Regions from separate parts of the Homo sapiens genome. Here region 1 is linked to region 2. Evidence: fine-mapped expression QTL. Tissue or cell type: whole blood. Region 2 holds a variant in brackets; the other region holds the start of a gene. All regions are shown on one strand. Distances are from middle to middle.

Region 1 (8,107 bases), 150 kb after region 2:
TTAGTGTGGTATTCAAAGCCTTCATCTACTTCTAGTCTTTGCAGGCATGGCTTCTGCTGCTCTTCCTAACACATCTTGTATTCCAGCCACCAGTCACGAAATCCCTCTCTGTGCATCTATCCTTGCTGGTCTCTCTGCCTGGAGTGCTCTTTTCTCCATTTTTACCATTTGAGAATTTCTATTATTAAAAACAATAGAAATAACGGTGATTTCTGAACGCTTGTTATATGCCAAGTATTATATTAAATGTTATGTATGTATTATTTCTTTTAATTTTCAGAGAAATGAAGTAACTTGCCCTGGTTACAATGGCTGAAAAGGGACTGATCCAGGATTTGAACTTGGTTCTGCTGTTGAAGAGCATGATCAAGCAGTATTGGTGACGTTTTCTCTGACTCTTCATTATTTTTATTTTTAATTTCTTTTATTTATTTATTTTGTATTTTTAGTAGAGACGGGGTTTCACCATGTTGACCGGGCTGGTCTTGAACTCCTGACCTCAGGTGACCTGCCCGCCTCGGCCTCCCAAAGTGCTGGGATTACAGGCTTGAGCCACCGAGGGAGGTGACTCTTCATTATAATGGCTTTTGTGTGTTCCAAAAACAGGTTTTTGTTTTTTGTTTTTTTAAGCTTACTATATAGAAACAGTTTTATTACAGAATTTAAGCACACAGACTCTGAAGTCACACTCCCCAGGTTTGAGTCTTGGATCTGTGGCTTGCCAGCTGTGTGACCTCATGTCTCCTCTCTTTATCTTTGAAATGGGAATGATAATAGCACCAGCCTCATAGGACTGTTGTGAAGATGAAATGAGTCAACCAATGTAAAGGGTTTTGCACAGTGCCTGTTATGTAACTCTTGTCCAGCAGACACATCCAGTCCTGTGTTGTGTCTATGTTCTGTGTCCCTTCCTAGATTCTGTCCTCTGGGAGGGGAGAGATCCCCTTCATTCATTTTCCAATCCTCCTGTACCTGGCACAACAGACCTTTCGCCAGATTGGGTGCTCCACAAACATTTGTCAAATTGAATTTGTAAATCTGCAGGTGTTTGTGCTGGACAATGAGACACTTACAAGTTCCCGGTCTATGCTATGCTTTAATTACCTACGAATCTTGTGAAGAAAATGGTTCTTGAATCAGGCTGGTCATCTAAAAGCTTTTGCCCTGTTTTTAAAAAATCCACGTCAATTCTTTGTCATTTCTTGGTGCTAGAAACATTTCAAATCTCTTTGAGCTAAATGAGGTGATGGCTATCCAGAATGTCCTGGTTTGATCATAATATATTGTATGCATGTATCAAAATATCAAATGTATCCCATAAATATGTACAATTATCATGTATCAAATACAAAAATTAAAAAAAAAAATCCAAGTCATTGCCACTCTGCTTCTGTGAACAGGAAGCCTTTTTACCTTCAAGCCTTTCCCAAGTCCCTTCCATTTGTAAGGCCACACCTTTTCCTTGGGGAAAGAGGAAAGAAACACCTGTCATAAGGTTCAAGACTTCTCAGACACAATTGGAGGTATTCAGCTGTAGGTAAACACAAACCTGTAGGTAAACACAAAAGTGACTGAGGTCCAGAGCTTTGGGTTTCACTTATAACCATAAGCAACTGTGTACCTGCTAAGGAAGAAGGCTGCAGACCTGAAAGAGGCCCACGGAAGGCCTGGGGATTTCTGAGAGGACACCGGCTCAAGTTACATTCCCATATTATTTCACCACCCTCATGCTTGTTTATTTACATTTCAGGCTGCCTCTCTAGGCGAGGCTGCAGGAGTGAAGGGGCTGGAAGAGGTTTCAAAGGAGAGTGAACGTGGTAGAAAAGGAAATATTTGATTAGAAGTTAACATGTCCTCTGGGGCTTCTTTGACTTGGATTACTGTAAAAGTGCATGGTGTAATAGTTGAGCACTCCCGGGAGGTGGTGGGCGGTCTCTCTGTACAGAGTTGTGGCTTTGTTTCTGATGAGTTGCAGCTGCTGTGCATAATGTAGACTAGATCAAATGGGGCATGGAGAAGAGCCATTCACAGGACCGGAGTGACGGTGCTCGCTCTGATGGCAGAATACTAAATTAATCATCTTCACCTAAACCTGTGCTTTCTCCTGGCCTGTACCTCAGTGAATACCTGCAAGTTGCTTAGGCTGTAACTTGAAGTCAGCCTACAATCCTCTTTGTCTCCAGATCCTGTCCACTTTCCTTTCCGAAGGTCTTTCAGATCCATTTCCTTCTTTCCACCTCCACTGGCACTGCCCTCATTCAGAGTCTCATCATGTCTTCCTGGATTGCAGCTTCCTTCCAGGTCTCTCAGCCTCAAGTCTTAGGCCTCCCATTCAATTTTCCGTGTTACTGTCAGAGGAATTTTTCTAAACTAGCTTAAAACCCGTCTGTGGTTCTCCATGGCCTTCCAGATCAAATGTGCTCCCTGAAGACTGGCCTGTGAGCCCCTTCACACCAGTAATCCTGACCCTGCATGCAATTCCCAGAACACAAGGCATTTGTTCTCAAATCCTGCGGCTTTCTTTGCTTGCTTCTCCTCCTGCCTGGGATCCTTCCCATCCTCCATGGTTTCTCTCCTCCTTTCCTCCTCCTCAAGTTCAGATATTTCCCTCACCTGTACCCCCTCTGTTGTAGCATTTATCACAAACTACACTGAATCTCTTGACTGGGCAGAAGAATGAATTGTTTCCCAGCATCTAGCTTTGACATAAAAGTTGCTCAATAAATACTTGACGAATGAATGAACTCTATTAAAGTAGGGTTCAGTCATAGTTCAGGGAAGGGGCCCTGAAATAGCTGGCTCTGAAAGAAGGTAATGCCGGTTATTGCGATTATGTTGTTAGATGGGTAGAATTTCGCATTCGATTAAGGGATAGTTTTGGGTTTCTTCAAGCTAAAGAAACTAAAGCCTATAAAAGGTGATTTAAAAGACCTCTTCTCTAGACTTGATGAAACGCTGTAATTGCCATCTTTGGCTGACACTGAGGAGTTCAGGAATGCCAAGCAAGTGTTTCCAGAAATGTCAAACCTGCTGTTTTAAAATATGTCATTCCAGGGCACAGTTAAATATACAACTTGCTCCGATGAGGTGGGAGAAGTGGGCCGGTGAGCTGTGAAATGAAATCTGCCTAATGAGGGTCGAGGCCAGCACACACAGGGACCTATTTGCAGTAAAACAACGTGGGGTGACGCCTAAGAAATAGACAACATTAACACAAAGGGAGCCTACTACGTAGCACATTTCCGCTAGGCATAAAAGAGACACCTTTCCAGAAAGCAACTCTAAAAATGAATGCACCGCCTAGTGAGGTGCGAGCCTTCCTCCCCACGAGGCGTCCCGTGCAACCGCACGCGGACAGCGGGGCTCCAGCGGAGGCGGGGTGGATGCGGAGACAAGGCGCCTAGGAGACTGGGCTAAGGCTTTGAGTGTCCGAACGAAGATTCTTTCGAACCTATTGATTTTTTCTAGTCTTATGATTCTTTCGAACCTTTTGATTCTTTCCATTCTCGGTTCTAAGCATTAAAGCGCAGCTGAGAAAGGCAGCAACAAAGATGGGAAGAGAACTAGCAGGAGTTCTCAGAGAAAAATGGGTGATAATTTAGGGGAGAAGCCATAAAGAAGAGACTAAGCGAGAAGCGGAGCACACGCAGAAGACGAAACAAGGAGGAGGAGAAGAGAAGAAGAACCTTGGCGAAGGAAGAGAGTGACCAAACTCGTCCCGGACGGGAGGAGGGCAGGCCCGCCCAGAGGGAATCGGCTGCTTTAAGGGAAGCCCCGCCCCCTGGTGGTGACGCTCCACCAGGCCCGTCCGCGATTGGCTGCGGCCAGAGGGCGGGATGGGGTTGCTAGGCGAGGAGGGGATCCGGCGGGCCCCCGCCGCCCGGAGCGCTGAGCCGCGGGAGCGGAGCCGGGGTTAGCGGCGCTGCTGGAAGATGGCGAGCGGCCGGGACGAGCGGCCGCCTTGGCGGCTAGGGCGGCTCCTGTTGCTCATGTGCCTGCTGCTGCTGGGGAGCTCGGCCCGGGCGGCTCACATCAAGAAGGCGGAGGCGACTACCACAACTACGAGCGCGGGCGCCGAGGCGGCCGAGGGCCAGTTCGACCGCTACTACCACGAAGAGGAGTTGGAGTCGGCGCTGAGGGAGGCGGCGGCCGCGGGCCTCCCCGGCCTGGCCCGCCTCTTTAGCATCGGCCGCTCGGTGGAAGGCCGGCCGCTGTGGGTGCTTCGCCTCACCGCCGGCCTGGGGTCGCTAATCCCTGAGGGCGACGCGGGGCCTGACGCTGCCGGGCCCGACGCTGCGGGGCCGCTGCTGCCCGGCCGGCCCCAGGTGAAGCTGGTGGGCAACATGCATGGCGACGAGACCGTGTCGCGCCAGGTGTTGATCTACTTGGCCCGCGAGCTGGCGGCCGGCTACCGCCGCGGGGACCCGCGCCTGGTCCGCCTGCTCAACACCACCGACGTGTACCTGCTGCCCAGCCTCAACCCCGATGGCTTCGAGCGTGCCCGCGAGGGCGACTGTGGCTTCGGCGACGGCGGCCCGTCCGGGGCCAGCGGCCGCGACAATAGTCGCGGCCGCGACCTCAACCGAAGCTTTCCCGACCAGTTTAGCACCGGCGAACCCCCCGCCCTGGACGAGGTGCCCGAGGTGCGCGCCCTCATCGAGTGGATCCGCAGGAACAAGTGAGTGTTGCCTGCCCCCTCCCCGTCCGTGTGAGCCTCCAAGGGCCGAGGCTGGTTCCGGCACCCAGTAGGCGCTCAGACAATGCTGGCATAAGGGGTGGCGGTGGTGAAGGTGAAGGGAGACACCCTGTAACGGGGACAGGGCCCAGGCCGCGTAGCCTCCCGTCCTGCTAATCATCAAAGAATTGCCTCCTAGAGGCTGTCATTTGTTCAAGGGATGGCTGGAGGGGACACTCCTTTCTGACATTTCTGGTCCCTATTCTTACAGGGGCATAGAATATGAGCGAGAAGAGATCTTAAGGATAACCTAGGTCAGCTCACACATTTTATAGATAAGCTGTCAATGTTGTTATCTTATATCAAAAGTGCCTAATGTTATAGGCGCTGTGCTAATTTTTTCTGTGACTGCAGTATCTCACTTTATTTTGGCCACAACCTGATGTCATAGACACCATCAGTTTTGCATACGGGGAAATTGAGGGTCAGATTGGTTAACTGATTTACATAGGAGTGTGGCTGGGACTTAGAATTAGGCAATCTGATTCCCGATAGTCCTCTTAGCCACGGAGGGACACTGGAGCCCAAAAATGGCAGATGATATTCCCAGGATCTTCCCCTTGCCTATTTGACAGAAGCTGATTTTTCTCCAATTTTTACCTCTGACTCAGCTTAAGAAGATATGGACTTAGCTGGAGAACTTGCACAGATCTGTGAGCCGCTTCATTTTAGACTCTGAAGGGTTTGTGATGTCATTTGTGCACCTTATTAGCCTGGGCAGAATGGCTAATGGTCACACTTCTAATACACACTTTAAGTGTTATTAAGCATTGCATGAGGTTTAAAAAATTACAAAGTAGAAGAAGGAGGACCTCAAGAAATTAGTATAAAACAAGAGAATGTTATAAATATTTATGAGGTATGTTGGTGTACCCAGTTAAACTTTACAGGAATTGTTCCCACTGGCAAGATGTGTGTGGGCTGCAATAACACGGACCATCTCTGTGGAAGAGGTAGAGCTTGAGCTATCTCCAGAGATGGGCAGGATTTTCAGCAAAAAGGAGAGGAATAAAATAAGAGGGAACTCACTCCAGATGGCATAGTGTCTGAAGTGAGCAGGCATCTCTTCCCCTTTTCTAGCATCAGCTTTTCCCCATTTTTGTATCTTCATAAGGCTTTTGAAGCAATAACTGATCATTCCATCTGGATTAAAAGAAGATTTCTGAGGGACTGCTAAGATAAAGAAGTTTCCCTGCGGGACTTGGAATCATTTCTTCTACAAGATTTCAGTCATATATAGAAGATCTAGAAAATTCTTGAGTGTTAGGACAGTTCCTGAGTCTTTTCGTCTTCTATCTTTTACTTTACTCCTCTTGATAAGCTCTCTTGTAGATATATAATTTCACATAGACTTTCTGGGAGGATTTTTTTTTCTTTTAAATACGATCGTGTCATCACCTCTGAACATCTGCGTAAGAAATATGACTTTGACATACACTTATTGACAGAGCTGTGATGGCCAGGGCTTTTTGGAGATGATACAACAAATGCACCGTTTGCATTGCTTAAATGTTTAAAATGCTCTGTCCTTGCACCTTTAAAATGCTGTGATCCTTGCAGGGATGTAAATTCTGTGCCTGGATTTTTCTTTTCAGTATTAGTTGTGCTGTGACCAAATATGAAAATAAGCTTTTTCTTGGTGCAAGTCGCCTTGAGGCTATACAGAGTCATTTTGGTCTGTGGCTGTGGACTACCCTAATCATATCTGTTCTTCAAATATGTAACTCTCATTAATCAAAAGGGAAAGTAGGTGATCATATATGGTAAAGAGTACATCCATCCTAACTCAGTCTTCAAGAATTCACTCAAAATGCGTACTCTGTGCTATTAACCAATAACAAAGGACACTGATATGTGAATAAAATTAAAAACACAAGCACACACACAATTTGATATTGATGCCTAAATATAGTGTCAACTTTATGGATGGGATATTTTTAAATACTCAAACATTAGTCTGTATGGGAAAACTACCTTTTTCAGTGTATTTTGTGAGGTAAACCATTTGAGTAATTTCTTGATATCCTATTCACCCAGCTATATTCGAATTAGATTTTTGTTGTTATTTCGAATATGTAAAATTTTAAGGCTTAATTTCCTCCAGCTTGGGAAAATGAAGTTTATTTTCTTTGTTTCACTTTATACTTCATCCAATGGATGTTGAGACAAATACTTAAGAAAATATATAAAAAAATTAACTTTATCATTCAAATGAAGATTTTATAGTTGACTCCTATTTTTTTATAGTTGACCGCTATGCTTCTTTAAGTGAATATACCTGCTTAAATTTTCATAGGTAATTAGCATATAAATGATATTTGAATGTGTTTGTGAAAAGCATTATTACAGTGTTGAGAGTGGGTGCAGATGATTTTTTTGGGGGCTTATGTATACATATCTATGATTGTCTGAATCTTTGAAATTTAGTTTGTCAGATATCAAGTTATCTTAATTTTTTTCAAGTTATCTACAGGGTTACCTGGATAGCGTAATAGAGTTAATTTAGAGATTAACTGTTTAATATTTATAAACTCATTTGTAATATCTCTAATATATTTACCAGCTACTTTAAATCTTATGCAAGGAATGATATGTGATACTGAAGTCAAGTATGAGAAACATTTCAGAGAATTGATTTGAATGGAAACCATAAAGTACCTGTCAAATAAGATTGGAGTTGATTTGCAAAGTTGATTTGACAAAAACTCAAAGCATAATCTTACAGCCATTGTAGTCACTTTCTCTTGAAATCTTCATTGTAAGAATGACACTGGTACTTTCAAAACTGTGTAATTACAGTAAGGAAAATCGAAGTGAATTTTATTACTCAAGTAGATTGCAAATATTTCATTGTTCAAAAGTATTTGATTAGGCCATTTTGACAATATTTCTGAGAAGTGTTGGAAGAAATGTTGAACAAAATGAGAAACAGCATTTTGTAGAGAATCTTGGATTTTAAAGTTTTACTTAACATGTGTAATTAAAGTAGCATGCTTTACTTATTTAGAATATTTAATTATCCATTTTATTTTACTAGAATATGAATGCCCAGAGGGTATTTGTTTGTTTGTTTCGCTCACAGATGTATCTATCCCTGGAATGTCCTTTGGGATGTATCTGTCCCTGAAACGTCATTTGGCAAATAGTTGACACTCAAGAAATGTTTGTTGCCGAATGGATTACCTGACCTGCCCCAGCCTTCTTATAACTTTCCCAGAGTCAGTGGGGGAAAAATACTTAAAAATTGTTTTAGAATTACAAACCAGAGAGTAAATTGTTAATACCTTAGCTATAGGGGAGAGGTGGTTAGAGTGGAGTTAGAAAGTTAGAATATTTACTTAGTTTTTGTTTCTGTATCATTCTATTACCCAA
Region 2 (8,107 bases):
CCAGATCCAACAGTTAGGAGGATGGCTAGGAACTGGCTAATAGAAATGGCGCATGGATGTCTCCTACCTATTTGGGGTTTTTGGTGACTGCAACTTAGCTACCTACACATGTGAAGACAAAAACATAGTAAGTGAAAAATCAGGACACAAAATAGTAGCTTCACAAGAATGACTATGGCTATAAACATGAGCAAGGATTAGACATGAACACCAGGCAATGTCAGTCACTAGGGTTTGGCGTTTGCTGCATTTTTTCTGTAAAGTGGAAAATAAAAATTTTAAAGGGATCGATTGTTGCCAAAAATATCTACAGCAACAAGAGATAAATCAGCTTCATGTAGCTAGGGGCTGTGTGTGTGTAAGGGGAGGTAGACGTCTTGGGCTGTACCGCACTTGTTGGGCCCTCCGCCACCCACCCCAGGCTCAAGAATGCAAACACCACTCAGAAGGATATGAATTCTGACAAGAGCGGTCTCCATAACCTCACCCTGCTCACCATTTATGCTACTGCCTGGCCTTGGCCTCCCCCCACTTCCCCCTTCCTTCGGCCCTCAACTAGGCTTGATAGGCTTTTAAAATAACCACACATCCTCTCACCCACCATAGGTAACCATTTACCAGGCCAAGGGATATTATTATTTTATTACATGATGAGATGTCAACATATTTAAATATTCAGCTAAATTAAACCTGAACTTGGTAGTCAGTGGTTGTGTTGTTTAAAAAGGCCTCTGTACTTCCCTCCGGCCTATATCAATGACATGTTTTGTACGTTAAACAACTGACGAACTTGAAGGCCAAATGGCAGGGAGGAAGAGCTTTTCCCTGTGCGGCTGGAGGGCACCGAGTTGACAGAGCTGCTCCTTCCCTTGCTCTTCCTCCCACTGGCCCCACAGTTTTGTTTTTTTTTTTTTGAAACAGTCTTGCTCTGTTGCCCAGGCTGGTGTGCAGTGGCACAATTTTGGCTCACTGCAACCTCTGCCTCCCGGGTTCAAGCGATTCTTGTGCCTCAGCCTCCGAGTAGCTGGGACTACAGGCGTGCTCCACCATGCCCGGCTAATTTTTATATTTTTAGTAGAGATGGGGTTTCACTATGTTGGCCAGGATGGTCTTGAACTCCTGACCTCACATGATCCACCCGCCTTGGCCTCCCAAAGAGCTGAGATCACAGGTGTGAGACACCATGCCTGGCCTGGCCCCACAATTTTCTGCAAGAACCTCTTCTATTTTCTGTACTGCCACTTTCCTCTCACTTAAATAGAAGCTCCAATTGCATCACCCAAGCGTTCCCTGGCCTCTCTACCCAGGCCCAGAGGGTCTACGGAAGGGAAATGCGGTCCATCTCAGAAGCAATACTTTGGGGAGAGGAAATAGACATTTAGCAGCAGCAGTGAGCAGTTACCCTCCTGCCTCAGGGGCCAAATGATTTGTTCTGGATTTTGTTTACTTTCTTCCTTGAGGCGTCCTGCAGAGAGGGTAGAAAATGTGTGCAGGTAGGTAGATTTTTGAGGGCAACGTGTGTTCTCAGGAGTCCTCAGGGGTTCAGCCCCGAAGGCATCCAGTCCTGAATTCCTGGCAACTATGGTAAGCAGCTCCTGGAAGAGTAATACGCTGTTTCTATTTGTGTTCTGAGCCATTACAGAGGTCTTGTTTCCTGAAATATCCCCTAGTTCTTCTTAATTTTTTAATTAAAAAATTTTACATCAACAGGCTGAAATGGCCCCAGTGCAAGAAAACCCAGAGCATCCCTCAGACAACTCATGACCGGGCAGCCTCTCCCCACAGGCTGTCTCTCTCTATCCAGCTGTGCTTTCTGGGGTTCTCCTACTGAACCCCCACCCTCATCATAGAATCTGGGGTGCAAACACAAAGTTACAGCCACTCAGAGGAGACACACATCTCCTTTTCTTAACTTACTCCTCTGCCTCTGCCAGGTAGAGGAAAACTCCTCTCGGTGACTAATCGGGTCTGCCAGGAGAAGATGCCATGTGCCCGGGGCCCTTTCTGCCTGCAAGCTCCTGCCTGTGGAGCCCCAGACTCTCTTCCTATTTTTTCTGATTCTGCAGAGCCCTGGCTGGCTTTTTCTATCAAGACTTGCACATAACAATGGCTGAAAACAAGCTGGCCCAGGAATAGAGAAGTGTGAGTTGTTAAGAAGGTTGGTTTCTGAGAATGCCCTCTTCTAAGCTTTCTTTTTTTAAAAGGTATTTTTATCCTGCTGGGTGGAAAGATTGCAAACGAGGTCAATATTACAGCTGTGACCTTCTCCAGGCAGTCTTTGAGTTTCTCCATGTCCAGAAAAAGCCCCAGAAGGAAGCCTTCCTTTGCATCTTGGATGTGTGCTGTTGTTCCAGGCTGAGCTGGTGACAGGCTGAGGGTGGTGCCGTGGACCCCACCTCTGCTGTGGAATGACAGCTGGCAGACAGAAGCTTCGTCCCCCTAGGTCTCTGCACATGAGGGGTGCAGTTGACCAGCCAATGGGAGTGGTTGACTTTCTCTTAACTCTCCTGAAGCTAATGCACTCCATTCCCCCAATCCCTGACTCCAAGTAAAAAAGGACTGTTTCTATTTAAACTTCTGATCGAATCTCCATTCCTCTTTCCACACACTTTGTCTCTATAGCCAGGAGCAACCCGTACCTGAACAAGCATGTAATTATCCCGATTGGTCATAAACACCCAGCCCTTTGGAAATGCCTGTGACGCTCCATCTACTTGATGCCTATCAGTGCCTTCTAAGCAGAAAGACACTACAGAAATGTTGAACTTTGACTTCATGTGTCAAGATCAAAGTGAGTTCATTTCTCAGGAAACTCAACTTTCTTTCTCAAAACAAACAAAAACAAATGAACTGTGGGTTTAACGTTGAGATAGGATTAGTTACAGGTCATAGAGCCAACTGGCAGTTCGTATCCTCTATTCAGAGGGAGGCTGAAGTTCCCAGGGCATCTCCCAAGAGTGATGGGAATTATGGAACGCTGGTGCCGCCCGAAGCAGTAAACATGGAATCTGGCCTTCTTCATGGAGAAGCACTCCCTCAGCAAAGATGTGCGTAGGCCCACATGTGCTCGGCTCCTCAGAAACAAGGCAGGCAAGCCGGGCCAGCTGGCTCACGCCTGTAATCCCAGCACTTTGGGAAGCCAAGGCGGGCGGATCACCTGAGGTCAGGAGTTTGAGACCAGCGTGGCCAGCATGGTGAAATCCTGTCTCTACTAAAAATACAAAAAGTAGCTGGGTGTGGTGGCGGGTGCCTGTAATCTCAGCTACTTGTGAGGCTGAGGCAGGAGAATTGCCTGAACCCAGGAAGCGGAGGTTGCAGTGAGCTGAGATTGAGCCACTACACTTCAGCCTGAGTGACAAGAGTGAAACTCTGTCTCAAATAAATAAATAAAAATAAAAATACAAAAAATGAGCCGGGCGTGGTGGTGCATGTCTGTAATCCCAGCTACTCAGAAGACTGATGCATGAGAATCGCCTGAACCTGGGAGGCAGAGGTTACAGTCAGCCAAACTGCGCTCCAGCCTGGGCGATAGAGTGAGACTCTGTCTCAAAAAAAAAAGAAAAAGAAAGAAAAAAGAAACAAGGCAGGCACAGTCCTGCCTGCATGGAGTCCACAGGCCAAGCCTAAAATCTGAAAAAGAAAACCAACTGCTAGGAAAAACACGATGCTTCTGGAGAGGCTGGTGCTGCCACACATCCCGTGGTGAACAGAGGCTGCCGCTGGCTCGCCGCGGCGTGTTTAGATAGCTCACATGTTTTGCACCACAGTTGCCCCCAGGCTTTAAGTCTTCCTTTGCTGCTATTGCACAGTTTCTCTCACAGGACCTTGGCTGTTGGCTGATCCTTCCTTGCAGGCTCTGCAGTGTAAAATGGGGGCTCACGTTTGCATCTGCTGAAGGCACTGCTGTGTTCCCGAAGTGTGCAGGGTCATGGGGGCACAGGTCGGAAGCCATAGGGACTCCTGCCTTGCCTTTCCAATGAATTGAAGAGATTTCATGATAGAAATGAAGAGAATAGAGAAAATCTGCTTGTTTTTTTTTTGGACAAAAAGGGTAGAAATGAACTCCACTATCACAGCCATCTCCTTATCCAAAGGATTCCTCATATGACAGAGTCAGTTTAGTGTTTTTTCTGTTCCTTTGTGTGTGTGTTTGTGTGTGTGTGTGTGTTGTTTTTTTAAGAGACAGAGTCTTGCACTGTCATCCAGGCTGGAGTGCAGTGGCATGATCATGGCTCTCTGCAGCCTCAACCTCCCGGGCTCAAGGAATCCTCCCACCTCAGGCTCCCGAGTAGCTGAGATTACAGGTGTGTGCCACCACACCCAGCTAATTTTTTGTATT[T/A]TTTTCAGAGATGGGGTTTCACCATGTTGCCCAGGTTGGTCTTGAACTCCTGGCCTATGAGCAATCCTCCCGCCTTGGCCTCCCAAAGTGCTGGGATTACAGGCATGATCCACTGCACCCAGCCTGGTTTAATTTTTTGGAGAGGAATTAAATAGGATAAAATCCTCAGGGCCATTTGGGCCAGTTATCATGAGAAAGAAAAAGAATTTCTGTCCAGAACTTTCCCTGCCTGGGAGAGGATAGCCCTGGGCTTCTCTCTACACAGAGTATAAAATCTAGAGGATATGCCCCTTGTGATGGGGTCAAGGTCCCCCTGAGAGGCTGGCCAAAAGGATACTGGATTATTTATTTTGACTTTACTAGAAAGAAATGAATTTAGCATAGCAGATGTGAACAGCCCTCCTCCAGTGAATATAAACAGCCAAGCCCAGACTAACTTCCTTCCAGAGTCATCTTTCATTAGTTCCTCTGTTCACAACCCATAGCTCTCCTTTCTGTTTCAGGTCTGCACTGGAATCCCTGGTCCACCACTTAATGGCTGTGTGACTTTGAGTAGGTCACTTAACCTCTCTTAGCTTCCATTTCCTCCTGTGTAAAAGCAGACTGTTAAAACCGCTACTTCCTAAAGGCTGTCGTGGGAATTAAAGTATGACACATGCTTATCTCAGTGTCTAGCACAGGGAAGCATCAATAAATGACAGTGAGTTGATGTCACTATCACCACCATACATCCGCAACCCATTGTGCCTTTCTACTTCATACCCTAGCAGGGAAACTGAGGCCCACAAGACTTGGGACTTAAGTGATCTGTGGCTCCCAGCACGGGCCTCACTGGGTCATGCTTGCTGCTCTCAATCAGTGCTTGGGGTCACCTGGGAAACAGACTCCTGGGCTGCTCTCCCAGAGATTCTAATTCAAGAGATCCACGTGGGCACTCAGGGATCTGCAGTTTTTAACAAATACCGCAGGTTATTCAGGGGCCAGTAGGCACCAACAGTGCCGTGTGCGTCCCCACCTGTAGCTTCCCTTCCTCTAATTATCCTGCACCCTCCAAGGCCTGGCATAAGCTTCTATCCACCTCCTCTCAGCACTCCAGCCCAAGATACACTCTTTCTACTCAATTCTCATTTGTCACTCGCCATTGATTACCAGGCATCATTAGTTATCCTTTTATATACATTTGCTTCGTGTGCCCCTGGAAGCAGGGGCTATGGCTACACGTCCCTGAGTCCAAATACTTGCAGACTGGAGCACGCCCTGTACAGCTCTCAGCATGGAGGGCTTGTTTTGGGTTTCCTGACTGGGCGAGGGTGCCAACAGATCTGAGCTCCATGTGAGGTGCTGCTCTTTCTCTCCTCCCTGGAGTTAAGTCAAATGGGATCAGGGTTCTATTCTAAGGGGCCCTGTCCCTCCCTGCCTCACCCATCGGGAAGATTGGCTGTGCATCTTGTGGGCAGAGGAGGAGGGCTGCCTTAACAGTCATTTTCATGGACTATGGACAGGAAGAGACTGACATGCCCAGGATTAAAGAGCCCGGGATGGGCTTTCAGACTTTGAAACAAGTACTGGCAGGCACACCCATCAGCGGTCTGGGCTCCAAATGTTCATCTGTGAGCTGGTGGTTTGGAACTTAGAATATATTTCCTAACCCACAGAAATAAATGTGATAAACTAAAACATCTGAAACGAAAGCTGTAGAACACAGCGTTGTTAAGTGCTACACGACGGCTTAGGGGTGGGGAGGGGGCTGACAATGAGACTGATTCGAAGTTCTTTCTTTATTTTAACCTTCTTTTTGGTTCTTAAGGAAAACTAAATTTAAGGAAAGAAGAACAAGGAGCAGGGAGATCCTTGTACAGATTCCACGGAGGTGTCTTTTAGGCACTTTTGAGGTCTTTAGTTTTGTTTGTTGTTCAATTTTAAAATACACAGTAGAGATGAGATCTCGCTATGTTGCCCAGGCTGGTCTTGAACTCCTGGACTCCAGCGATCCTCCTGCCTCAGCCTCCCAAAGTGCTGAGATTACAGCATGAGCCACTGCGCCTGGTCCAAGTTCTTTAGAAGTTGATGACATGGGCTGGGCGCAGTGTCACATGCCTGTAATCCCAGCACTTTGGGAGGCCAAGGTGGGCGGATCACCTGAGGTCAGAGTTCGAGACCAGCCTGATCAACATGGAGAAACCCTGTCTCTACTAAAAATACAAAAATTAGCCAGGCATGGTGGCGCATGCCTGTAATACCAGCCTTTTAGAGGCTGAGGCAGGAGAATAGCTTGAACCCAGGAGGCAGAGGTTGTGGTGAGCTGAGATCGGGCCATTGCACTCCAGCCTGGACAACAGGAGCGAAACTCCATCTCAAAAAAGAAGAAGAAGAAAAAGAAGAAAGAAGAAGAAGAAGAAGAAGAAGAAGAAGAAGAAGAAGAAGAAGAAGAAGAGGAGGAAGAGGAAGAGGAAGAGGAAGAGGAGGAGGAGGAGGAGGAGGAGGAGGAAGAGGAAGAGGAAGAAGAAGAAGTTGGTGACATGAATTGCTTGTGACACATAATTTCACAACTTACAACTTTTTGCAGAAAACAAAACTGCTTTTACTCTGTTACCATAGTATATTTAAATGTGGACGAGGCTGGGAAAGAGACTTGAGAAACTCAAAACAGATGATGTGTTAGATTAATCAGGATTAGGAGTGTCACTTCACCTTCCAAACACTCCTTTACTGTTGTGATAAATACAATTTATGCAATAAGTAAAAATCGAGATAGAACACATGGGAACATGTCCACACACAGCTTTTCTTTTCCTTTATACAGGTATGTTACTAAGATTACCTTTGTGTAAAACAGACATGATTGGGTCCACAAAGGGACCCAAAACAGAGAGAAGAGAGGAAAAAACAACCCCAGGGAGAGGGTGCTATGAAATAAGGGTGGATTCACCTGTGGCTGCTGAGCAAGGCGGAAGAGGGAAGTGGGGAAAAGGGGGTTTGAAGTGGAACTACAAAATAAAATGGGAGTGGAGAAGAGAAAAGAGAGGGGAAACTGGCCCATTTCTCTGGGTGGGGCATGGAGGGGAGAAGGAGAGGTGAGGTCAGGTGAGGTGAGGCTGCTGGAGGAGACGGGTGCATCCAGGTGGAGAGGGGGCGCGGAGGACACGTGCAACCACCTCTTCAGCCACAAGGTGTTTGGAGTTTGGCTGTTGCTGCTCAAAGGTGCCTATACTCTTAGGTCAACAATTTCTGAGATGTGCTTTAGTGTGAGTCACACAGTTGGAGACACTCATGAAAAATCAGTTCATCCTTACACATCATTGCACCAGTCTAGTTCTCAGATATGCACTGAGATGAGAGCAAGAAAAACTTTCTGACCCCTAGTTTACAGTCTCACAGAGTAACACTGTATGCTAAAAAGGACATCATTGAGACAGCGGGGGAAATGGGAATATGAGCTGTATGTGCGATAATAGTATTGTATCTATCTCCAGTTTCCCCAGCATGAAAATGGCGCTGTGGTTACGTACAAGAAGGTCCTTGTTTGTTGGAAATCTGTGTTGAAGTATTTAAGGAAGAAGTATCTGGAAGTCTGCAAACTCTCAAAGGTTCAACTATATATATTAGTTGAACCTATATATATAGTATATATATACCTGTATGTATACCTACAGATATATATATACACACTATATATATCTGTAGGTATACATACAGATACATATAGTTTATATATACATATAGTGTATACAGACACATATATACACTGTATGTATCTGTATGTACATA

The links. PIP is the estimated chance that this variant, and not a neighbour inherited with it, causes the effect.
Region 1: it holds the start of CPD, and the variant in region 2 is fine-mapped to the expression of CPD in whole blood (TOPMed, PIP above 0.99).

Annotation. Positions count from the first base shown.
Region 1 is chr17:30,375,049-30,383,155 of GRCh38, forward strand. It overlaps CPD (carboxypeptidase D), which reads left to right and starts at 3,879. Exons shown (of 21, transcript NM_001304.5): 1 at 3,879-4,678. The coding sequence starts at 3,933. RefSeq lists enhancers at 1,605-1,894, 2,145-2,194, 3,465-3,634, 3,780-4,707 and silencers at 3,685-3,924, 4,225-4,354.
Region 2 is chr17:30,223,325-30,231,431 of GRCh38, forward strand. All of the region lies in intron 1 of SLC6A4 (solute carrier family 6 member 4), which reads right to left. Among named protein-coding and RNA genes, the nearest start is that of SLC6A4, 8.3 kb to the right of the region's middle. RefSeq lists a silencer at 2,573-2,773. The variant T/A (reference allele first, on the strand shown) is at 4,340.